Homo sapiens: one gene and its partners. The gene in region 1 interacts genetically with each later gene. Each region holds a gene or a part of one and is shown in the gene's direction. Other genes may lie near its edges. The genes, in order: MCM3AP, CYB5B, XRN2, PDCD7, BOD1L1, TCF25 and LTN1.

Region 1 (3,500 bases):
GTTTCACCATGTTGGCCAGGCTGGTCTCGAACTCCTGACTAGAGATGCATGCCCGGCCAAACCATGCATTTCTAATAATCACTTTCAGCAGTTTCCAGCATTACTTTTTTTTTTTTTTTTTTCCTGAAGAGCTGTCTCCTGGCCGGGCGCAGTGCTCACGCCTGTAATCCCAGCACTTTGGGAGGCCAAGGCGGGCGGATCACAAGGTCAGGAGATTGAGACCATCCTGGCTGATATGGTGAAACCCCATCTCTACTAAAAATACAAAAAATTAGCCGGGCATGGTGGCAGGTGCCTGTAGTCCCAGCTACTTGTGAGGCTGAGGCAGGAGAACTGCGTGAACCCGGGAGGCGGAGCTTGCAGTGAGCCGAGATTGCGCCACTGCACTCCAGACTGGGCAACAGAGCGAGACCCCATCTCAAAAAAAAAAAGGCTGTCTCCTAAAGGAAGGGCAGCATGACTTTTTGCAGGTGCAGCTTATCACAGTGAAGCAGACACGGTCGGCCATGTTAGTTGTGTTAACCGGCATGTGATGTGAAGTGCCCTGGCTACCTTGTCTGTCTGGGGAACTCTGTTCTCAAAGGCTTTTGCTTTTCACACCAGGCCTACTTTGACAGATCTCCGGCTGAATCCATCTTTTCATCTTTTGGCCAATGTATTTTCCTCACTTTCCGTTTTGTGACGAGCAGTTTAGTTGCTGGTTTGACATAATCTTTGACATTCAAGTTCAGAAAATGATGAAAGCTAGAAAATGGGGAAGCTGAGAGAGAATGCCTGATTCCTTTTAGTATGTCCTTCTACCAAAATAATTTCTGTTTTAAAACATGTAGGCTTAATATTTCCTTATGATATTAAAGACTTTTTTCATGCTGAGTTTATTTCTTTGAAATAGAAATCAGTAAGTGTTCATTTTAGCTGTTTAAATGAGCCTATCTTTTTTTTTTTTTCGGGGGGTGGTAAGTTAGAGTCTCACTCTGTCACCCAGGCTGGAGAGCAGCAGTGTAATAATCTCAGCTCACTGCAACCTCTGCCTGCCAGGCTCAAGCAATCCTCTCACCCCAGCCTCTCGAGTAGCTGGGACTAGAGGCACATGCCACCATGCCCGGCTAATTTTTAAATTTTTTGTAGAGATGGGGTCTCCCTATGTTGCCCAGGCTATTTTGTTTTTCAAAAGTATGAAATATTTCAAAATTATATTAAAGTCAGTGAGTAATGTGAATAACGCTTTTGTGCTCATTACCATCCTTATCAAAACTCATCTCATTTCAGTGCTTGTAGTTTCTCAGCTTTAGAGGACCAGAAAATCTTGAAAGATGAGGGGACGTGTTCAGAAATGAAAATGCTCTGAAGGCCTTCCTGGGACGAGGGCCCTCAGTGTGGTGTTTACTTTATAGCTCTCCAGTGAAGAAGCCAAGTCTTCTAAAGGCCCACCAATTCGAGGGAGACTCTTTTGACTCAGCCTCCGAGGGCTCCGAGGGCCTCGGGCCATGTGTGCTCTCCCTCAGTACCCTGATAGGCACTGTGGCTGAGACATCCAAGGAGAAGTACCGCCTGCTTGACCAGAGAGACAGGATCATGCGGCAAGGTATGGCACTTGGTGGCAGAGGTTCTAGGGGCCTGGTGAGGTCGTCATCTTGGGTGCCATCAGGGCAGGAGCAACTCCTTTCCATTGGGCTCTATTGCTGTTGAGTCTCAGAGCCTGTGATATGCTGTGTCTGATCTTCATAGTCTGCCTGTCTTCTTGGAGTGAGTGTTGCGTGTATGTGTACATAAATGTGCAAATATGTTTGCTAATGTATGTATAAAATAGTAGTGGGAGGATGCAAAAGAATGGGCTCCTGTCTGTAGAGGGAGCGGGATTCCGAGGGGCAGAGGTTATGGTGGAGTGCTCCGTCTTGGACAGGGCATTCTTACACTGTTACAATGTTGAACTGTGTGAATGTATTACCTACTAAAAAGTAAGTATTCCATTAACACTAAAAATATATGCAGGGACCAAAAATAAAAGGAAAAAACACAGGTACTTCTCTTAGCCAATTTTTTTCTCTTAAATTTCAGCCGGGCTGGGCATGGTGGCTCACACCTGTAATCCCAGCACTTTGGGAGGCTGAGGCATGAGGGACCACCTGAGGTCAGGAGTTAAAGACTAGCCTGGCCAACATGGCAAAACCCCCATCTCTACAATAAATAAATAAATAATAAATAAGCAGGCTGGGTGCGGTGGTGTGCATCTGTAGTCCCAGCTACCTGGGAGGCTGAGGCAGGAGAATCACTTGAACTGGCGAGGTGGAGGTTACAGTGAGCCGAGATTGTGCCACTGCACTCCAGCCTGGACAACAGGGTGAGATTCTGTCTCAAAAAAAAAAAAAAATGCTGGGCGTGGTGGCTCACGCCTGTAATCCCAGCACTTTAGGAGGTCGAGGCTGGTGGATCACCTGAGGTCAGGAGTTCGAGACCAGCCTGACCAACATGGAAAAACCCCATCTCTACTAAAAAGACAAAATTAGCCGGGCGTGGTGGCACATGCCTGTAATCCCAGCTACTTGGGAGGCTGAGGCAGGAGAATGGCTTGAACCCGGGAGGCTGAGGTTGCGGTGAGCCGAGATTGTGCCATTGTACTCCAGCCTGGGCAGCAAGAGCGAAACTCCATCTCAAAAAGAAAAAAAAAATCAGCTATAGGAGTTTCCTCTTTTTAAAAGCTGTGGATAATTTGAATAATCACCATGTTTCCTTAATATAATAACATATAGTAATAAAAGCTGCCATCAAACATCATATCATTGATACAGTGATTTTTATATTCTAAAAATTATTATTAGGTATTAGAATTTTTCTTTTTTTTTTTTTCCTCGAGATGGAGTCTTGCTCTGTTACCCATGGTGGAGTACCATGACAGAGTGAGCGCAACGTCAGCTCACTGCAACGTCCGCCTCCCGGGTTCAAGTGATTGTCTTGCCTCAGCCTCCTGAGTAGCTGGGACTACAGCCATGCGCCACCACGCCCGGCTAATTTTTGTATTCTTAGTAGAGATGGGGTTTCTCCATGTTGGTCAGGCTGGTCTCGAACTCCCGACCTCAGGTGATCTGCCAGTCTTGGCCTCCCAAAGTGCTGGGATTACAGGCGTGAGCCACCAGGCCGGGCCCAGGTATTAGAATTTTTCAACATGAAAACAATAAGTATATATTTTGAGTGTGAAGTTGTTGCATTTCCTTTTCCTTGCAAGCTACATTGTAACTTAAGTGTAATAGCAGTTTACTCATTCAGGTAAGAACCCAGTTAACGTCCATTATATGATTCTTATATTAAAGTCATGGTGAATACTGAGACAGTTTTAGAATAGTGATATATTTTGAATATTTGCAGTTGTTACAAGTCAATCCTTTTAGTAAACATCCTGCACCATGATTTTTTGTCATTGAGGTCATTACAGGAGTTAGAAAACTCCGGCTGAAAGTGAGGACACTCCCCTGCTTTTATCTGCAGTGAGGGTCTGTGACTGT
Region 2 (3,500 bases), on another chromosome or scaffold:
TTCCTGTGCAACCCTCACCTAGATGTCTGCCAGCAGTTGATCTCTCTGCCTTCTTAAAAAGTTATGTAAACTCTTATCTAGAATATCTGGGGTTTTTAGTTCAACTGACTGGACATATACAGTATAGAAACTCATTTTTTTTCAGTGGGTTTGATAATATTCTCAACTCTAGATCAAGAACTTCCCATTACTTAACCTGTCTTTGATGATCCTGAAAGTTCCCTAGATGGGAAATAGATCTGGCAGTATGTCAGGGTCACTAATTTTCCCTGGATAGTATTAAAATATATAGAAGGTTTGCTACTTTTCCTGGCCCTGGATAATCTGTCTGAAAAGAGTTTGTGTGAATGAAGTTTTCACGTATTTGCTCTTCATGTCATCCTGTAGGCTCAGAATGAACAATACAGGGAGATTCATTTTGCTTATCTATAGTTTCTAAATTTTTGGTAATGAAAATTATTACTTTTGTAAAGAAAGTTATAAAAATACTAACAATTAAATATAAAAATGCAGGGTGCTTGGATCTCAAAATAGGAGCTTACTGTGATTAAAAGTCAGACTGCATATAATAATTAGTTATAATTAATAATGCTTTTTCTTTCTTTGTTTACATGAAATCTTTCAGAAAATAATAATGCTTTTTCAAAGATTGAATTTTTGGTAAATGTTTATATTTTGGCTAGCTTAAGTTTTCCCCTTTCTCTGCCTCTCATTTCTAGAGTCACCAGAAGGAAAATGTAAAACATTTTTTAAATGGCTCTTTCCCTGTAAATCATCCAGCACACACACTGCATTTTTTCTAGTTTCAGGCATAAAGGGAAACCTGGCTCAGATAAGAATGATCCTTGCTGCATGCTCAGCGGCTCATATATCTTTCTTTTTAAATTATTATTTTTTACTTTTTAATATTTATGTATTTTTAATTTTTTTAGTGACAGGGTCTCCGTTGCCCAGGCTGCAGTGCAGTGGCGCCATGCCTCGAATTCCTTGGCTTCTGGATGATCCTCCTAATTCAGCTTCCTGAGTAGCCAGGACTACAGGCCACCATGCCTGGATAATTTTTTAATTTTTAAAATTTTTTTTGTGGAGAACAAGGTCTTGCTTGGTTGCCCAGGTTGGTCTTGAATTCCTGGCCTCAAGCAATCTTCCTGCCTTGGCCTCCCAAAGTGTTGGGAATACAGGTGTGAGCCACTGTGCCTAGCTATCCTTTTTTTTTTTTTTTTTTTAAATTCTGAGAGTCTCTAGCTCAAACACAAGTTAGCAGGTTAAGGACTACTCCAAGTTCTGGCAGAGCTAATTTTTACTACTTGGTCTTCAAAAAATAGAGGCTTTTTTAAAAATTTTTTTTGTGACAGAGCTTCACTGTATTGCCCAGGCTGGAGTGCAGTGGTGCGATTGTGGCTCACTGAAAACTTCGCCTCCCGGGTTCAAGTGGTTTTCCCGAATAGTTGGGATTACAGGTGAGCGCCAGCATACCCAGCTAATTTTTGTACTTTTAGTAGAGACAGGGTTTCACCACGTTGGCCAGGCTGGTCTCAAACTCCTGGCCTCAAGTGATCCGCCCTCTTCAGCCTCCCAAAGTGTTGGGATTACAGGCGTGAGCCATGGCACTTGGTCTTGTAACTCCTTTTTGAACATAACTTCAAAGTGAAGGCCTTTGCCCATGAGCTCTTTGACATCATCTGGTGTCCACTGGTGACCCATCAGCTCCAGAACTTTCTACTTTGTCTTGGAAGCTTTGCTGGTTTCTGTGGGCATGGCCATGGCTGCTCTGGTCATCTGCTCCTGCCTCATTTCTTATTGGTCAGTTGCCATTATCTTGGCCTAGAATCACAGTAAATTCTCTGAAGCCCAAATACGTTGAGGAAATACCAGGATGCAGAGCTCATTCAGGGTGGATCTAATGTGAGTAGTTTGATAACTTGCTGCAGCATAGGCTTAAAACCAGAGGGTCGGCCGGGTGCAGTGGCTCATGCCTGTAATCCCAGCACTTTAGGAGGCCGAGGCGGGTGAATCACCTGAGGTCAGGAGTTCGAGACCAGCCTGGCCAACGTGGTGAAACCTTGTCTCTACTAAAAACACAAAAATTAGCTGGGCATGGTGGCAGGCACCTGTAGTCCCAGCTACCTGGGAGGCTGAGGCAGGAGAATCGCTTGAACTTGGGAGGCAGAGGTTGCAGTGAGCCGAGATTGTGCTACTGCATTCCAGCCTGGGCAACAGAGTGAGACTCCGTCTCAAAACAAACAAACAAACAAACAACAACAACAAAAAACAGAGGGTCAGTGGAAATAGGACCTTGGTTGCAACAATGCCTGAGTATGTCAATGTTGATCCATTCACAAGTAAGAATCATAGGGATGACGTTTGTTATATTTCCTTTCATCATGCCTGAGAGCATAGTGGGAGGAAGTGGTGATATTTTTATCCTCTGGGTTGTTGATGTAATATTCTCATGTCAAGAAAAAGACTTTTTGGGAATGTAATTTCCATTTTCACTGAAGGCTCTGCTTCAAATTAGGACTTAACTGTCAGATACTTGCTCCTGGGTGAGCTTCTTGTCGCTCTGTACCAGGATGAACATGTAGTGGCAGATCATATCTGAGAAGAAGCAGATGATAAACATGGGCGGGACCATCCAGTGGCTGACGCTGGAGTTGGACAGTAGCTCCTACCCTCTGTCTTCACTGAGAGCTGGTCTGGCTTCTCCTGGGGTGCCGGGGCTCTTTGGGTTTTCGTCGAGGCCTTCGTATGCTCCTCAGCCTGGGCATTATCTTGGCCTAAGACTGGCCAGGACCCTGCTATAGCCTCGGGCCTAGTGCAGTGATTCCAACTCCTCCAGCTGGGCTGCCAGTGGCCCATGGCAGCCCTGCATCCATTTGATTTTCGCTAACTCTATCTGGAGACTATAGAGTTCTAAACAGAAACCAAAAGCTCCCTGACGTCTTTTTGCTTGTTCTAAGCCATCTCTATTAAGACCATATTTTAGAGTGAAAGTTATTAAACCGTAGAATTTTGTTTGATCACTCTGACCCCCACTTGCTTCAGTGAAAAAAAAAAAGAAGCAGGCTACAAAACATTATGTACTACATGAATTCACTTTGTGAGAACACAAAAAACTTTTATTTATCACTGCCTACCACACAAAATAGTAAGGATTCAATAAAAAATTGTAGACTAATGGCTGAAATGATTGAAAGAATACACAGGAAAAATGAAGTTTTATGCACCAAATTGTTAACTGGACTTATTTCTGTTCCAGGACTCTAGTTGATTATTCTTTTTTCCAAATTTACCACAGCGAATATATAACTTTTACTTAATATTTTAAAAAAGTGTTGTGCTTTCTCTTGTTTATAAGTGGTGAGAGACTGATGAAAGTGAAAGTACTTGTAGAAAGAACTGTGTAGCAAGTCAAAAATTCAGTCATTCCCTGAAATGTTGTAATCTATGAAGGAGTTTTATTGTCCTTTTACTCTGAAAGGCAACACAATAGTTGGGTT
Region 3 (3,500 bases), on another chromosome or scaffold:
AATAGTATTCCTTAGGTGTAAACTCTGGCTCTCCAATTCAGCATGGAATAGATCTAAATAAATATCTTAAGGTAGCACTTACTGGTTACTCCCTGTTTGTGAACTCAGCAACTGCATGCATTTATTTGCCTTGTGGTATTCTTCCATATTTGAACTTGGTAATCCAAACTCCAGAAGCAAATCAACCTATCCTGCAAGGCTGTACTTTGTCCACCACCTTCCTATTGTAGTGGAAATAGACCATGAGCTCTCAGAATACCCAGTGGGACAGCAACAGGGCTGAGGGAACAGACCCTGATCTAACAGTAGAGGAAGGAACATACACTTTTGCTATGATATATCCAAGGAAATTGAATAAGCTTGGATATTTAATTTCTGTTATTCTGTTAGTTATCCTATTGATGCTCATATGGAACAGAAATAGCTGATGCCCATCATTCAAGATTTTAGTGACTACCATCCCCGCAGAGCAGAACTGAGAGTGACTGGTGGTGTTATATGCCCTGTTGATGGTAGAGTACTTTTTTTTTTAAATCTTGGGAGGCAGGCAGGTTTAAACTTTGCCAGCTGTGGTTGCTTCAGGAAGCATTCCAGTATTATCTTCAGGCCCGGTAGTATTAGGCCACAGGACCAGACTGTAGATCGATAACATCTGCCATAGGAGTAGTAATGGGGAGACTGGTGATGAGGTTGCTTCTTTGATTCTGTCTTAATTAACTTCCCTTGCCACAATTATTTCTATATAGAGGAGGTATGGAATTCGAATCTTTGCAGAGTGGGATTTTCACCTAGAATGTTCTAAATTTAAGGAAATTTTGAAGTCAAATTACCAGTTTATTTAAAGGGAGCCATTAAAGTTACAGATTTCTCGTGTTTTATTTTTCTGAGCTGTTGGGTTGTAGTCTCTAATACTTATCTACTGATGATTAACATTCTTAGTGTTTTATTAAATAGCTTCCATTTCCTTATATTTGTGGTTTTATATTTAGCGTTCTTCAGTGTGGTTTCATTATATCTAATTTGATGAAAAAAACAGCTTAAGAAGAAATTTGAATTTAATATGAATCTGGTATGTTCACAAGGGAATATTTTTGTTGGTAGAGACAGCAGCGGAGATTTAGCATTAAATGGTGAACAGCATTTTTTTCTAGAAAGTATATTATTATTTGTTTTCTAAAGATAGAGTTTATATCTTGTTAGTAATTAATTTTGTTAAAGTTTGCTTTTTACACAACTTCTCTGTAGACAGTTAATGGGAATGTCACTCTCATAATTTAATACAAATGGATTAGTGTAGGGTTGAAAAAACAATAGTGATTACTTACTGAATGGTTAACTACCATGTACCATGTAGGCAGCATGCCAGTAATCTTTCACATGTATTGATGCATTTAATCCTTGCAATAACTTGTAAGGAAACAGAACGTTATCATCCCCATTTTAAGATGAGGCTCACAGAGGTTAAGTAATAAATTGTTCAAGGCCACACAGCCAGTAAAGGTTGAATTTGGTATTTCAGACTCAGATCTGTATGACTAAAATACAACAATACCTGCCTCGTTTTCCAAGTACAACAGTGCCTTCCTGTATTTATTTTTATTGGGTTTTTTTTTGACAATATTGTCTGTACCTTTTCATTAATAACATTGACATTATGTTTTTAAAAGAGATGTGCTCTAAGTTCTATGTGAAATATGATTTCGTATTATTTTAACTTTTCTTGACCTGTGGTATGAACTGTGTTTATGCTGTGGATACTCTAATTATTATATCATTCAAATGGCCTTCTGTGCTCTCAGTTTAAAAAAAATTCAGTTTACTTGAAATAGCTAATATACTGTGAGTAACAGAAGAAAAACTTGACTGTGGAAATGTTTCTGCCCCTTATGTTTTTGGTGATGTGGTCCTTTAGCTTGAGTAACTAAAGTTGCAGAACATTTTCTTTTAATTTTTAAATATTAAAATATGTTAGGGTTATATTAAAATATGTTAATTAAAATTAACGTATTATGTTAATTGAGTTAGGTACAAAGGGAAGATAATACTGAATTTAAAGTGACAGCTAAGTCTTTGAAATACCAATAAAATCTGCATTTTTCTAAGATGACTAATAGATTTTTATTTGTTGATTGATTTTTAAAACTGAACATATAAAGTAATTTAAGTTATCTAACACAGTCTTATTAAACTTGCTTTTCAGAGTGGTTGTACTAGGTTGAAGACTTAACCATTTAGCTGCATTCTCACCAGCATTGACTATTTTATATATTATTACATCTATATTATTATATATTATATGCTATATATGTAATGCATTTTATATATCACATAATTTTTTCCCCTCATAGCTTTGCCATTTGGTAGGTGGCAAATGATTGTGAATTCCTAACAGGAATTGTTACAACTGATTGTCACAAATGATTGTGAACCACCAAAGGAAAATAAAATTCAAGTACTATAATTTTTAAAAATCTATAAAATTAAAACTTTTTTTTTCTTCAGAAACTTTTTTTTTTGCCCTAATAATGTTAATTGTTTTTAGTTTAAGCATAGAAAGTTTGGGTATTACATTACTTCTTTTGAGGGGAAGTGAAATGGAGCAAGATCAGTCTCTGTACCTTCTAAATATGTTTACCATCTCTATGTAGTAGCTTTAAAAATGTTACTGTGAAACATGGTAAGTAGTGGTGGTTGGATGTACCTTCTTATGTAAAATGAATAATGAAATCCTTCTTCTGTAATGTCATCATTGTCTGCAGAGTCCTTCGATATCTCCTAATACGAGTTTCACATCTGATGGCTCCCCGTCTCCATTAGGAGGAATTAAGCGAAAAGCAGAAGACAGTGACAGTGAACCTGAGCCAGAGGATAATGTCAGGTGAAGCCATTTTTTGGTAGCACTTTGTTAGCAAATTGCTGAAATAGATGCAGTCTAATTAATGCTATTTAGCTTAGAGCAGCAGTGCCTTCAGATGCTTGCCTGTGATCTTTTTATCCATCAGTAATTAATGTGGAGGGTTAGAATAGTCAGTAAATTCCAGTGAGATGTGTAAGCTGTAGCTGTTAAACCTAAGTGTCTAGATTAGTATGCGTGCAGGCTTTCGTCCTCCAATCCACTTTTCCCTCTGAGACCAGGCACAAGATCGGCTAGATATCATATCTAGGTGTTTAGCTCTGACTATGTGATCTGAATGTTGCTGTTTGGAGACTGATTAAATTTTCAAGCTGCTTAACCTAGAAAGTTCAGTTATACTTAGACACTTAATATAGTTTGCCTTAATCTTCTCTATTGAAAGAGTTCTTCCTCAAAATGAAATATGCAGAAATCATTCTGTTAAGAGATCAATATGTATGTTTTTTAAAAACCACAGACTTGCATATGCGCAATTATATTTCATGACAGAGGAGTTTCCCTTTAACTGTATACTTCAAATTTAAAATAGGAAGCTGATTCTTTAATTCATCCTGAAGTTTGAGATCATTATATAATAAGATTAACA
Region 4 (3,500 bases), on another chromosome or scaffold:
TGCAGTGATGCCGTCTTGGCTCGCTGCAACCTCTGCCTCCCAGGTTCAAGCGATTCTCCTGCCTTAGCCTCCAGAGTAGCTGGGATTACAGGTGCACACCACCACTCCTGGCTATAAGCTGAGTCTTAAAGGAAAAGTCACCCAGGTGAAGGTAATAGGTGCAGTTCCAGGGAAACAGAGTAATCCAAATGGAGAAGTGAAACAGCTTGGTGTTGGCTGTAGCTGTAGTGGTGGAATTACAGGCACTTATTTGACAGATGGGGGAGAGCACTTTAGGCAAGAGGATTCTCTCCACCACCCATGGTGAACTTTTTATTTTATTTATTTTATTGTTTTAAGGAGACAGGGTTGGGGCTGGGCGCCGTGGTCATGCCTGTAATCCCAACACTTTGAGAGGCCAAGGCGGGCGGATCACCTGAGGTCAGGAGTTCGGGACCAGCCTGGCCAACGTGGTGAAACCCTGTCCCTACTAAAAATACAAAAAATTAGCTGGGCATGGTGGCAGGAGCCTGTAAACCCAGCTAATTGGGAGGCTGAAGCAGGGAATCGCTTGAACCCAGGAGGCGGAGGTTGCAGTAAGCCGAGATCGCGCCATTGCCCTCCAGCCTGGACAACAGCGAGACTCCATCTCAAAAAAAAAAAAAAAAAAAAAAAGAGGGTTGGGGGCGGGTGCGAAGTGGCTCACTCCTGTAATCCCAGCATTTTGGGAGGCTGAGGCAGGCAGATTACTTGAGCCCAGGAGTTCCAGACCAGCCTGGGCAACATGGAGAAACCTCGTCTCTACAAAAAACACAATTAACTGGGCATGGTGATGCTGTGATCACACCACTACACTCCAGCCTGGGCAACAGAATGAGACCCTGTCTCAAAAAAAAAAAAAAAAAAAAAAAAAATACAAAGTTTCACTCTGTTGCCCAGGCTGGAGTGCAGCGGGTTTGTCATAGCCTGTAGGTTTGAACTCCTGGTCTTAAAGTGATCCTCTCGCCTTAGCCTCCTGAGTAGGAATAGCTAGGGACACATGCCATTATGCCCAGCTTCCATGGTGAGGATATTGGTGACAGAGTCTTATGAGGAGTGGCTTGAGGAACTGGGGTTATTTAGTCTATATGTGAACTAAGTCAAGAGTAGGACAGCAATCTTTGGTATTTGAAAGGCTGTCATGTGGAAGAGATCCTTGGGACTTTAGAGCAGTGGAACACAAACATAGGTTGTCACTAAGAGACCTTTGTAGAGGTCTCAGCCTTTCCAGCCACATTCCTTATCCTTCCTGGGAATCTGAATCTTCAGGTCTAGGGAATCTGCATTTTTAACAAGTCTCAGCTTAACAAGGTAAGTTGGACACCTGATCTCTGCACTACACTTTGAGAAACACTGAGGAAGAAACAAAACCAGTGCTATGTGGAAGATACAGAGAGGAGAGGTTCTCCTTTAAGATGAAGGTTGTACCATCAGTGGAGGGGGATAACCTCTTAGCTAGAGGGGAGTTGTGCAAGGCCTAAGAAATTGGGATGGAGATTCAATAGAGTCTCTCTTAACCTGGAGACTGTCTGATCCTTTAAAATCTAACCACTGGGCAGCTATTCTCTGCTGTAAGTTTGTTCCTAATACGAGGTCTCATGGGCTTTGTTTCTCTTCCAGGAGCAGGAACTCAAAGCAGCCGCTGATGGCGTACTATCTGAAGTGAGGAAAAAACAAGCAGATACCAAAAGAATGGTGGACATTCTACGGGCTTTGGAGAAATTGAGGAAACTGAGGAAAGAGGCTGCAGCGAGGAAAGGTAACTGTGGCTTTGCATTTCTTTCCTTGTTCCCTTCCCCTTCTTTACTCTAGCTCCTCCCACCCCAAATATTATTGAGGGAAAAATACTTGAAACTTCATGATTTTCACCTTGTCGGGTAACTGGGCTTGTCAGCAAGTAGGTCAGAACTTCTGAAGCAGGAAGCCTCAGAAGATGTTTAGCCTGTGGTAGCCCAGATTGAAAAGAGAGGCAAGTGTGGGAACCCACTGCACTGTCTTCCCCTTGACTTATCATTCCTACCCTGGGCATTTCTGGCCACACTCTTCTGAGTGGGCTTGTCATGGCTAGTCACCTTTGCCTTGTGCCAGAGTGAAAGCTTTTCACCCTTACTTGTTGCTCCAGAAAGTGTTGAAAACTTGGCATGCTTCTTCAGATACATTTCAAACCTGAATTATTTCTATTTGAAGAGGTATGAATGGTTGGACAGGGCAGGGATTGCAGACTGTGTGGATTTCCCCACCTTCCCTTCATGTCACTGGTCTCTTCTTGCCTCTGGAGGAAGCACCAGACACTATAGCCAGGCAGTTCAAGCTTCTCCACCGAAGTTTGTTTCAACCATGCTGGCTTTCTAGAAGTTACCCAATTGTGCTTTCCATTTGCCTGTCTGGATCTTAGCTGTTGTCATTCTGTTCATCTGGAGGGCCCTCAGTCCCATCTTTGCCATTTTAAGATCTCACTATTCAAAACCAAATACACATGCAGCATCCTTCATCCTTCCCTGATCTGGGCTGAGGTAACCTCCTGTTGCTTCTCACTTGCACCTGCTTTGGACCACATGCTGATTTATTTAGTAGATTGTAGGCCTTTGGTATTCACCAGAGATATTTGAGAGTGTACAAATTAGCAAATGCCACTCTAACAAATGATTTCCCATGTGTTGTTTAAAATGTAAATGAAAACTGGGATTCTTTTAGACCCTTAAGAAAGTTGTGTTGGAATATGACCATTTTGTATTCACCCAGGCTCGTTTGCTAGCTAAGTGATTGGCTTTTGCATACTAGCCTTCAGAGCGGCTAATTCACATCCAGACCTCAGAAACAGATGCCTCCATTGTGGTACTCTCAGGGCATTTGTAAATCAGAGGGAAGTTAGCATCTGCTTTGTCTACCCATCTCTTTTTCACTAGAAGGCAAAACCTGAGAGCTATTTAATATTCCCACACCTCACATCCTCTATGAGGTGAGTGCTCAGTAAACTTCTGCCAAGTGAATTTACCAGCATTTCCCAATATTAATCTTCCTCACTTTGGTCCAAAAGGAGGAGGAAATTTTAGGAAAATCATTATCTATAGAAATAAACAGACTTTGTGGCATTAAGTGACTTGAATGTAAAATGATTTGGTAAGTAGCAGCTGGTTGCATGCATATTTAAAATGAGCAGCTAACTTCTCTCTTCAAGATGTGTGCACCTCCAACTAAGTGCTGAATGATGAGGCTGGATGTTTAAGCAGGACCACGTTGCAAATTGTCTTATGGGCTATGCTAGAGTTCTCACTTATACTTAAAGCTTTGGGGAACCGCTGAAAGTTTTTTTTTTTTTTTTTTTTTGAGACGGAGTCTCGCTCTGTCGCCCAGGCCGGACTGCGGACTGCAGTGGCGCAATCTCGGCTCACTGCAAGCTCCGCTTCCCGGGTTCACGCCATTCTCCTGCCTCAGCCTCCCGAGTAGCTGGGACTACAGGCGCCCACCACCGCGCCCGGCTA
Region 5 (3,500 bases), on another chromosome or scaffold:
TGATTCATGCTTTATATTTGACTCTTTCCCCCTTAGGAATGTTGAAGAGAACTCCAAAAAGAAACAGCAATATGAAGAAGATTCCAAAGAAACCCTTAAAACAAGTGAGGTATGCCTTAATAAAACCTCATTTCAAATGCTGTTTTGTTAGATATAGGCTGTTTATTCCTTTGGAGTAAAACTTAGAATGTAATTTGACTTTTTTCAAGTCAAATAAAAAGTCAACTTACATTCAGCATTTTTGAAACCCCATTTTGTTATGTCCCAAATTGCCCATTTTGTTGAGTTGATTTATATATTTGTCGTTTATCTAGGTAATAGCTACTCTTCTTCTCTTTTCCCATTTCTTATAATTGCAATAACAAAAATGCCAGTAATGACAAAAAAAGAAAAAGGGAGGCTAAAATTAAAATCTAAAATCCCTCCACTATAACAAATTATCCTTTTTATTCCCTCTCATTCCTTATCCACGGGTCCACATAATTTTTTAGAGTACAAGTAATCTGGCAAACTGTTTTTAACATTTTACTCATTTCATGTTACCTTCTAGGCATCCTAATTATTTAATGATTGTCTAGTGTTACATATAATGTACATACCATAATTTATTTAAGCATGTCCTTATATTTTAGCGCTTAGGTTGTTTCCAAGATTTGATCATTTTAAACAGTAAAAGTAACGTACAATGTTTTCTTCCCCCTTTCAGGATTATTTTCGTGGGACAAACTTTTGCTTTCACTGTTTTAAAATTCTTTTTTACAAAAACCACATTATCTGTAGTTCTGTAGCTAAACTATCTTAATATTTCCAGAGGGAAAAAGCAATGTTAGTGATTATTTGTTCATCATCAGCAAACATAAATTTAATTTATTTACTCAGAAATTAAAGGCGTATTTAGAAGTATATAGTGATGGCTTAATGACATATTTTTAAATATTTAACTTTCTTTTATGATAATTCTCTATAAGAAATTATCTCATAAAATAGTATTCACATTGCTTAGAATTAGTTTTTTATTGTGAAGTTGATGCAAACTCCTGTTAGTTCTTTGAGGAATTTTATTTTAAGCTATTTAATAAGGTCTTGTTATGTCCTGGACCCTGTTATTAGTAGAAGTACATTAATCTTTGTGTTGACATTTAAGGAGATGAAGTGTTAAACTGACCTAGAGGCACAAAGGTCCGTCTGAACTTTGGCCCATTATTTGCATAAGAATAATTATAGCTAGTAGTCAGTGAGTATTATTGAAGTGGATTTAGTCAACCTCCACTCATTAATATTAATCGCCTACTTAGTGCCAAACCACAGGGCCAGAAGGAAGGTTTAGATGCTCTTGTCTCTCCGTATCTTTTTTTGAATACATAAACATATACATATGTTATATATGATATGGTTACTGTGCGTTATTGTGTACATTTGAAGCTTCATGTGTAGAATATTGTACAAGTAGCCTAAATTCATGAGGTTTCCATACATAATTCAGCTTTTTAAATTAAAATATAGGAAATCTATATTTCAGTATATTTCAATTTTAAATTGCCTTCATGTATTATGTTTTTGACTGAAAAGGACATTTGACTGTCATTTATTCAGCTCATATTTATTATTGAGTACTGGGCATTAGTGAGTTCTAGTGATTCAGAATTGAAGAATTCATAGACAAATCAGTGCCTGTGATATACTGGAAGGAGTACTAGACTCGGAATGAAATAATCTAAACTCATTCCTAACACACCTACTTGTGGTCTGAGTGTCAAGTTATAGAATCATGCTGAGCTACAATTTCCTGATGTTTTAATGGCATATTTTTAAGTATTTAACTTTATTTTGTGATAAATCTCTATGAGAAATAATCTCATAAAATTGTTCATATTGTTTAGAATTAGTTTTTTTATTGTAAAATATGGTTGTTGCAAACTCCTGTTAGTTCTTTGAAGAATTTAGCTTCTTAAAATCAAGTTAATAATACTTATTTTTTAAAATCAGGTGAGTTTTTGACACCTACACAGGCTGTTTGTAAGAATTAAGTGAGATGTTACATATGTGACAGCACTCAACATATTAAATCCACCCAAATGTTATGTTTTAATCTAAAAATTGATTTTGGTATTTCTCATATTTTAACCTTTGTTTTCTTTCAGCATTGTGAAAAGGAAAAAATTTCTTCTTCAAAGGAGCTGAAGCATGTTCATGCAAAAAGTGAACCAAGTAAACCTGCCCGGAGACTTTCAGAGTCTTTGCATGTAGTTGACGAAAACAAAAATGAATCCAAATTAGAAAGAGAACATAAAAGACGGACATCTACCCCTGTTATCATGGAGGGGGTACAGGAAGAGACTGACACAAGAGATGTAAAAAGGCAAGTAGAACGCTCAGAAATTTGCACCGAAGAGCCCCAGAAACAGAAAAGCACACTTAAAAACGAAAAGCATCTAAAGAAAGATGATTCTGAAACACCACATTTGAAAAGCCTACTTAAGAAAGAGGTGAAATCCTCCAAGGAGAAGCCTGAAAGAGAGAAAACTCCATCGGAAGACAAATTGTCTGTGAAACATAAATATAAAGGTGATTGTATGCATAAAACAGGTGATGAGACTGAGCTTCACTCTTCTGAGAAAGGTTTAAAAGTAGAGGAAAATATTCAAAAGCAAAGTCAACAAACAAAGCTTTCTTCAGATGATAAAACCGAACGAAAAAGTAAACATAGGAATGAAAGGAAATTATCAGTATTAGGCAAAGATGGAAAGCCAGTTTCTGAATATATTATAAAAACAGATGAGAATGTTCGTAAAGAAAACAACAAAAAAGAGAGACGCTTGTCAGCTGAAAAAACTAAGGCAGAGCACAAATCAAGAAGGTCAAGTGATTCTAAAATTCAGAAAGATTCTCTGGGTTCCAAGCAACATGGTATCACATTACAGAGAAGAAGTGAAAGTTATTCGGAAGATAAGTGTGATATGGACTCCACTAACATGGATAGTAATTTGAAACCAGAAGAGGTTGTTCACAAGGAGAAACGACGAACAAAGAGCTTGTTAGAAGAGAAACTTGTGTTGAAGTCTAAATCAAAAACTCAAGGCAAACAGGTAAAAGTTGTAGAAACAGAATTACAAGAAGGTGCCACAAAACAGGCAACCACTCCAAAACCAGACAAGGAGAAGAACACAGAAGAAAATGACTCAGAAAAACAGCGTAAGTCTAAAGTTGAAGACAAACCTTTTGAAGAAACTGGTGTTGAACCTGTATTAGAGACTGCTTCTTCTTCAGCACATAGTACACAGAAGGATTCTAGTCATAGAGCCAAGTTACCATTAGCAAAGGAGAAATATAAGAGTGATAAAGACTCCACTTCCACCAGGCTTGAGAGAAAGTTGTCAGATGGCCACAAAAGCAGAAGCTTAAAGCATAGTAGTAAAGACATAAAAAAGAAGGACGAAAATAAATCAGATGACAAGGATGGTAAAGAAGTTGACAGTAGTCATGAAAAGGCCAGAGGTAAT
Region 6 (3,980 bases), on another chromosome or scaffold:
ATGCCTGTAGTCCCAGCTACTCGGGAGGCTGAGACAGGAGAAGTGCTTGAGCCTGGGAGATGGAGGTTGCAGTGAGCCGAGATTGCGCCACTGCACTCCAGCCTGGGCAACAGAGCAAGACCTCATCTCACAAAATAAAATAAAACCCTAACCCATCCTGGGAGGGGCCAGGCCGGCTCACCAGGGCTGCTGCTTGTGCTCATGAAGCCGCAGTAAGTCGGGCAGGAGGCTGCTGGCACCTGTCTTCTCTATGCCCTCCTGTCCCCATGTCCCCAACCCCAGGCACAGGAAGCTGTGCCCTCCGCCCACTGAACCCAGCACTGTCTCAGCCTCATCTACTTTATTTTTTTCATTTTTTTGAGACAGGGTCTGGCTCTGTCGCCCAGGCTGGAGTGCAGTGGCGCGATCTCGGCTCACTGCAGCCTCAGCCTCCCGAGTAGCTGGGATTACAGGCGTGCGCAGCCACGCCCAGCTAATTTTTGTATTTTTAGTAGAGGGAGTTTCACCGTGTTGCCCAACCTGGTCTCGAATTCCCGACCTCAGGTGATTCGCCCACCTTGGCCTCCCAAAGTGCTGGGATTACAAGCGTGAGCACCGCGCCCGGCCCTTAGATCGTGACAAACGCGGGCGGCCTGTCCTAGAACTGTCAGAACCACTGTCCCTAAAGAGGCCTCGGGCGGGCAGTAAGGGCCGCGTCACTCAATGCTGCTCGAGGGGCGGCGGCTCCAGGGCAGAGGCGGGCATCGACGGCTAGATCACTCGAATGACACCCTGACACGAAAAGGACCAACTAGCAACGTCCGGGACGCAGCTGAAATGCTGCAGGCACGGTGCGGGGACAGGCCCCGGCGGGCAGAACGCGGCTGCGGGTTCCGGGCCACATGGATGGGCAAGGCCGGGCAGGGCCGACTGTCGCCGGCTGCGCGCCCGTTACCCCGAATCGAAGCCCGTCATCCCCGCGGGGCACCTCTCCATGCCCGGTGCGCACGGCGCGCAGACACCCAGCTCTCCAGAGACCTGGCCCGGACCCCCCGGAGCCCGCCCAGACGCCGCCGCTGAAGCGGGAAAGTTCCGGAGAGCCGCGACGCGCAGGCGCCGCAGCCAGGTCCTGCCCCCACCCCTCGCGCCAAGAGTGCGCAGGCGCGCAGCCAGCTCCCCCGCCCCCGACCCCGCGCGAAGAGTGCGCAGGCGCGCCGACAGCCGAGTTTTCTGCGCTTCCTTCTCCCTCTCTCCAGACGTCGTGGTCGTTCGGTCCTATGTCGCGCCGGGCCCTCCGGAGGCTGAGGGGGGAACAGCGCGGCCAGGAGCCCCTCGGGCCCGGCGCCTTGCATTTCGATCTCCGTGATGACGATGACGCGGAAGAAGAAGGGCCCAAGCGGGAGCTTGGTGTCCGGCGTCCCGGGGGCGCAGGGAAGGAGGGCGTCCGAGTCAACAACCGCTTCGAGCTGGTGAGGAGCGCGGCGGCCCGGGTGGGGGTGGGGTGGCCCTTGACGTTGTGGGGCGGGGCGAGCGTCCAGCCGGGTCGGGGAGCGGGGTTGTGATGCCAGGGGTGGGAAGGGTGACGTGGGTCCCAGCCGCAGTGGGGAGGGCGGGGCCGTGCGTCGGGGCCAGGGCGACGCGGGTGGGCGGTGGCGTGGGGTGAAGACGGCGGGCCGCGGAGTTAGACTGGGTTCTAACCCCGGTGAGGTGGGCGGGGCTAAGGGATGGGGCGGGGCCGTGCTGTCGGGGCGGGGCGACCGAATGGGCGGGGTTAAGCGGGGTCCGGGTTGTGGAGGGTGCGGGGCCTTGATGCCAAGGGCGTGGCCAACGTCCGCGGGGCCGGGCCACGACGTGGGCGGGATTAAATGGGCCTGCGGCCACGTGGCTGTCGTGGGGCCGTGACGCTAAAGGGCGTGGCTAAAGACGGGGGGGTGGCGAGGCGATGGCGTGGGCGGGGTTAAATGAGGCCTGGGGCCACCGTGGGGGTGGGGCCACGGCGTAGGGGCAGGAGTCGGGTGGGGCTTCCCTTTCTCGAGTCTAGAGGGGCCTTCTCTCGGTTCCAGGGTTGAGGACTTGCCAGGCCTCTGCGAGCATTCTGCTTTAATCCTCACAACAACTCTGCCTAACCCAGGGCCTTGCTCTTCGCGCATCCCCATCAGCCTAACCCAGCGGATTAGTCTTACTCTTTGCTGCATCTCCGGCAGCTCGTTTCTGGCACAGGGAAGTAACAGTTTGACTGTATGGTTTGCTCATGCGGTCCTGTGACGTTTTCTCCTAAGCCCTGGCCTCCGTCTGTAACTCTGCCTCTGCGGGCTCTGCGATCCTCCCACCTCAGCCTCCTGAGTATCTAGGACTACAGGTGGATGTCACCACGCCCGGCTAATTTTTTTTTTTTTTCTTTTTTGTAGAGAAGAGTTTTCGCCTTGTTGCCCAGGCTGGTCTAGAACTTCTGCGCTCAAACAATCTGTCCACCTCAGCCTCACAAAGTGCTGGGACTACAGGCGTGAGTCACCATGCTTGGTTGACTGCCCTTCTCGCATCAAGTCCACCTTTAGTGGTCCCCAAGACCCCCGTCAAGGTTCAGTAATTTGCTAGATTCACAGCAGTTACTGAAAGCTTTTTGTTTTGAGATGGAATCTTGCTCTGTTGCCCAGGCTGGAGTGCATTGGCACAATCCTAGCTCACTGCAACCTTGAACTCCTGGGCTCAAATAGTCCTCTCACCTTGGCCTCTCAGAGTGTTGGCATTAGAGGCATGAGCCACTGTGCTTGGCCCCGTAAGTCTTTTTAAATTTTTGTCAATGTAATTTGTGAAAAATGATATCACATTATTTTATTTTACACTTCTTTGGTAGTGAAATGCAGCACCTAGCTATGTATTCGTTGACCATTTATATTTCTCTTTGTGACAACCTGTTTATATCTTTGCCTTTTTATAGGGGGTTTGGACAGTCTTTTTGCTCGTGGAAGCTTGCTATCGATTGTCTCTAACGTATTTTCTCGGTTTGTGTTTGTTCTTTAACTTCTTTAATTTCTGCGTGCTGAAAGATACTGGAGCCACTTTTCTCATTGTTACACATCCATCTCTCTAGAGTGTCTTCACATAGATATTCCCTGACGTGAGTTTTTTTTTTTTTTTTTTTTTTTTTTTGAGATGGAGTCTCGCTCTGTCGCCCAGGCTGGAGTGCAGTGGCATGATCTCGGCTCACTGCAAGCTCCGCCTCCTGGGTTCACGCCATTCTCCTGCCTCAGCCTCCCAAGTAGCTGGGAACACAGGCGCCCGCCACCACGCCTGGCTAATTTTTTGTATTTTTAGTAGAGATGGGGTTTCACCATGTTAGCCAGGATGGTCTCGATCTCCTGACCTCGTGATCCGCCTGCCTCGGCCTCCCAAAGTGCTGGGATTACAGGCGTGAGCCACTGCGCCTGGCTTTTTTTTTTTTTTTTTTTTTTTTTTTTGGTTACAGACAGGGTCTCACGGTGTTGCCCAGGCTGGTTGCTGGTCTTGAACTCCTGGGTTCAGGTTATCCTCCTGCCTCAGCCTCCTGAGCAGCTGGGACTACAGCATACCCTACCATGCTCAGCTTGTTCTTTTAATGCTTTTTTTTTCCCATTTAAATATTTAATCTTTTTGGTATTTATATTTGTGTTGGTGGGAATTTGGAAAAAGTGTGGTTCATGAGTTGACAGAGTAAGAGTCTGTAAGGTCAGAAACCACACAAACCCTTGTGGACTTTCTGGAGTGAGTTTGAGTGTCAGTAACACTAACAGCCTCCATGGATGAATGACTGCTTATCGTGCTGTGTTCTTAGGAATTTCAGAGAATTTTATCCAGTGGCACACATCAGTCTTAATTTAAGCATTCCATACTTTTTTGCTCTTAAAACTCATATTTGGAAATAATATAATCAAAATGTTTATTGGCATTCTGTTAAATAGCTCTTAATAAACAGAAGTATGGGAGACAGTAAACAGCCAGTTACGACTAAATGGTTATGAATG
Region 7 (3,500 bases), about 17 Mb from region 1:
TGAAAAAGGGAATAATAGTGAGATTGATTCATTGGAAATGACTTACTGAAAAATTCAAAAGCAAAAATTTTGATGTTTAAATCAAATAATACTAAATAGTAAAAGAAAAAGCCAGAAGAGAAAGCTTGGCTTCTCAGAAGCATCATCTATGCTTTACTTTACAGACAGAAATTGAAAAATGGCAAGGTATCCAATGACTGTTGCAAATTAAAATAATAATACTTCAGATAACATGAATGGATGATGTGAATAGAACCTTGCTATTGAACATTTGCTGGATCAGATAAAAGTCATTAAAACAGTTGAGATTAACTGGAATATATATTCAGTTCATGTTTCTAGTTAAGACTGCTTTATTGTTTATGTCTAGTTTTTATTTCATTTTCTTAAATGACATTTGATTGTTTGTGAATCATTTAAGCTATACTAACTTTCTTTTGAGACGTGCATGTTTCTTTCCTTTTTGTCATTAGGAGAAAACAAAGATGTGTCTGAAACATCCTTTCAGAATGCAATGCTGAAACCCATGTGTGAAACATTAACGTATATCTCAAAGGAACAGCTATTGAGTCACAAACTTCCTGCAAGATTAGTTGCTGACCAAAAAACAAACTTACCAGAATATCTCCAGACTTTGTTAAATACATTGGCCCCATTACTCCTCTTCAGAGCTAGGCCTGTGCAAATTGCTGTTTATCATATGCTATACAAGTAAGAATTCATCCAATTGAATCAATGTTACAGTGGTCTAAAAAAATAGAATATATGCTTAGTTTTTACTTTTAATTATTTAAAGTAAAATTTTTAAAAGAAGGAGATCTGACTGCTTCACTTATAGGGACCCTAAGTTGCCTCATCTTTTAGGTTATTGTTCTCTATACACAATTTATATTTCAATAGTCCTGGCTATAGTAGTTATTTTAAAGAAAACTCATTAAAACATTTACTCATTATAAAATAAGTATTGGTCTTTCTGCTCTTGAGCACGACTTAATAAACAGTTTAATATCACATATTTAAAAATAATGTTCTAATTTCTAGATTGATGCCTGAATTACCACAGTATGATCAGGATAATCTAAAGTCATACGGAGATGAAGAAGAAGAGCCAGCCTTGTAAGGTTTTTTTAAATAATTTGTTTTATTAAATTCTTATAATCCATCTCACTTATAATGTCTTTAGAGGACTGAAGCAGCACAGAAGCTATAGAGTTATATTCATTCTACAGATAGATCTTTTTAGTTATCTGTAAGATATAAATGAAATATAGATTTCACCCAAAAGATTGTGTCACTCTCTTAATTGTTCTTAAATCACATTTTCCGTTTGCTACTGTTCAGTAAAACTATCTTTGGCCATATGGTGGCTGTGGAAAGAGTGTATCGGTTCAAGTATCTATTGAGCATCCACTTTGTGCAGAGTATTAATTAAATGCTGAGGGGAATATGCAGTGTTTAGTGAGCACTTTCTTTTCCTTAAGGAATTTATCTGATACAGATGATACTGTAGCGTTATGGAAAATATAGTATATGATAAGTGCTAAGAAAAAGGATAGATAACTTTTTTTTAAAGGTCAGTTAGGCCTATATAAGATAGCATGTATGAGGGCACAATTAATGTACATCAGGAAGGGAAGACTTTCTTTTGAGGAAGAGGCATTTAAACTGGACCTTTAAGGTTAGGTAGCATTTCTGCAGGACAGGAAAGACAACATAAGTTAAGAGAACATCATGTACAAAGGCACTGAGTCATGAATGTGAGGATGTGCTTGGGGAATATTGAGTAGTTACCACTTAATGTATAGTTTTATTGATAATATCTTTCTTTACTGGAATGTAAGTTCTGTGAGGGCAGGAATTTCTCTCTCTTATTTCTGAGAGAGAAATAGGCTAGAATGCTGTAGGCCAGAATGCTTCCTGGCCTATAATAAATGGCCTTAAAAATGACTTTTTTGGGGGGATTTGGTCATTACTTGGTAGGAGATAGGGCGCCACCAGCCGATTCTGACACTAATGTGAAACATGAATTGTAAAAAGAAGCAAGCAGAGGTGGAGCTGATTGCAGAAGTTAAATAACAATGCATGGAGGGCAATGTGAAAAGTGGAGAGATTTTGGAGCTGGTATTTTATAAGATCTAGTGACTATCAGTATGGAATATAGAAGGCTGGGTACATGAGATGGAGGTGTTGAAGGAAAAGACCTAAGAGCAGAAGTTTGGAGAAGGCCTGTACTTGTGGGCTGGGAGAAGGAAGCCACAAGGGAAGAACGATCACAGAAGTGAAAGGAGAGAACCAGGCTAGAGTATCATGGAGAAGAGAGTTAAGTATTTTACTTTTTGAGAATCTCATAAGTTCACCTGAAAGTATAAATGAGTAGAGTAGTTCAATAAAGAAGAAAATTAACTTACATTGTTGTGAATTAATCTGAATGGTACATTTATTTTCCTAAAAAGATTACAATCATGATTTTTTAAACAGGCACATAATTATTTTCTGTGTTTATCCGATTAATAGTATCATTGTGATATTTCTTAATAGTACTAAGTAGATAATATGCAATAAAATAGAAACTAGAATGAAGTGACAAAGTTCGAAGTCTTAATCTTCACTTTGTCTTTTATAAGATGATAAAAGGCCGGGTAGGATTTAGAATCCCTAACAGTTTCCCCTACTAACTGAAAGACGTTGGACTCATCATTTGGCTTCTCTGGGTGTGTGATTTTTTTTCACTTAGAAAATTGAAAGAGACGTTTTCTAAAAATGTCTTTCCTTCAAGTGCTATAATATGTCTTTTTTATTTTACTGTTATGTGAGATTAGGAGTTAAAATTGGCTCAATAGAGGGGAATTTTTAAAACGTTTTTTGGAAAACAGAGAAATTTTTCTAAAATGCTTGAAGTTTACAAGTACTGTCAATTTGTTAAGGAATGAATTATAAAGAAAACTTGTGGTGTTTAATCATTGATTCTTAGGTCACCACCAGCAGCACTGATGTCTCTTCTTAGCATTCAAGAGGACTTACTAGAAAATGTTTTGGGGTGTATTCCTGTTGGACAGATAGTTACTATTAAACCACTGAGTGAAGACTTCTGTTATGTTCTGGGATACCTTCTCACTTGGAAATTAATACTAACTTTCTTCAAAGCTGCATCATCACAGGTAAATAAATATGTGACAACTTTCGATAGTTCTGTCCTAATATGCTTCTGATACTGTTCTAAATACCTTCCTTTCAGTTTAATAAAAGGAAAATCCTTATGTTTTAATCTCATCTTTTAAAATTTATTTTATTTTGTTTATTTGAGACAGGGTCTCACTCTGTTGCCTGTGCTGGAATGCAGTGGCACAATCTCGGCTCACTGCAACCTCTGCCTCCTAGGCTCAACCGATCTTCTCACTAAGTAGCTGGGACTACAGGTGCAAGCCACCATGCCTGGCTAATTTTTATATTTTTGTAGAGATGGGGTTTCACCGTGTTGCCCAGACTGGTCTCAAACTCCT

What was found.
Region 2: changes in MCM3AP (region 1) and CYB5B together harm fitness more than expected from each alone (negative genetic interaction), as found in Homo sapiens cells (one large-scale study listed by BioGRID).
Region 3: changes in MCM3AP (region 1) and XRN2 together harm fitness more than expected from each alone (negative genetic interaction), as found in Homo sapiens cells (one large-scale study listed by BioGRID).
Region 4: changes in MCM3AP (region 1) and PDCD7 together harm fitness less than expected from each alone (positive genetic interaction), as found in Homo sapiens cells (one large-scale study listed by BioGRID).
Region 5: changes in MCM3AP (region 1) and BOD1L1 together harm fitness more than expected from each alone (negative genetic interaction), as found in Homo sapiens cells (one large-scale study listed by BioGRID).
Region 6: changes in MCM3AP (region 1) and TCF25 together harm fitness less than expected from each alone (positive genetic interaction), as found in Homo sapiens cells (one large-scale study listed by BioGRID).
Region 7: changes in MCM3AP (region 1) and LTN1 together harm fitness less than expected from each alone (positive genetic interaction), as found in Homo sapiens cells (one large-scale study listed by BioGRID).

Annotation. Positions count from the first base shown.
Region 1 is NC_000021.9:46,275,612-46,279,111, reverse strand, and holds part of MCM3AP (germinal-center associated nuclear protein), read left to right. Parts: intron 1-1,394; coding exon 1,395-1,585; intron 1,586-3,500.
Region 2 is NC_000016.10:69,441,619-69,445,118, forward strand, and holds part of CYB5B (cytochrome b5 type B), read left to right. Parts: intron 1-3,500. UniProt on the Homo sapiens protein: Cytochrome b5 is a membrane-bound hemoprotein functioning as an electron carrier for several membrane-bound oxygenases.
Region 3 is NC_000020.11:21,341,331-21,344,830, forward strand, and holds part of XRN2 (5'-3' exoribonuclease 2), read left to right. Parts: intron 1-2,759; coding exon 2,760-2,878; intron 2,879-3,500. UniProt on the Homo sapiens protein: Possesses 5'->3' exoribonuclease activity. May promote the termination of transcription by RNA polymerase II.
Region 4 is NC_000015.10:65,127,309-65,130,808, reverse strand, and holds part of PDCD7 (programmed cell death protein 7), read left to right. Parts: intron 1-1,638; coding exon 1,639-1,777; intron 1,778-3,500. UniProt on the Homo sapiens protein: Promotes apoptosis when overexpressed.
Region 5 is NC_000004.12:13,603,726-13,607,225, reverse strand, and holds part of BOD1L1 (biorientation of chromosomes in cell division protein 1-like 1), read left to right. Parts: intron 1-36; coding exon 37-109; intron 110-2,141; coding exon 2,142-3,500. UniProt on the Homo sapiens protein: Component of the fork protection machinery required to protect stalled/damaged replication forks from uncontrolled DNA2-dependent resection.
Region 6 is NC_000016.10:89,872,412-89,876,391, forward strand, and holds the start of TCF25 (ribosome quality control complex subunit TCF25), read left to right. Parts: upstream 1-1,180; 5' UTR 1,181-1,256; coding exon 1,257-1,448; intron 1,449-3,980. UniProt on the Homo sapiens protein: Component of the ribosome quality control complex (RQC), a ribosome-associated complex that mediates ubiquitination and extraction of incompletely synthesized nascent chains for proteasomal degradation.
Region 7 is NC_000021.9:28,940,878-28,944,377, reverse strand, and holds part of LTN1 (E3 ubiquitin-protein ligase listerin), read left to right. Parts: intron 1-473; coding exon 474-711; intron 712-1,041; coding exon 1,042-1,116; intron 1,117-2,971; coding exon 2,972-3,158; intron 3,159-3,500.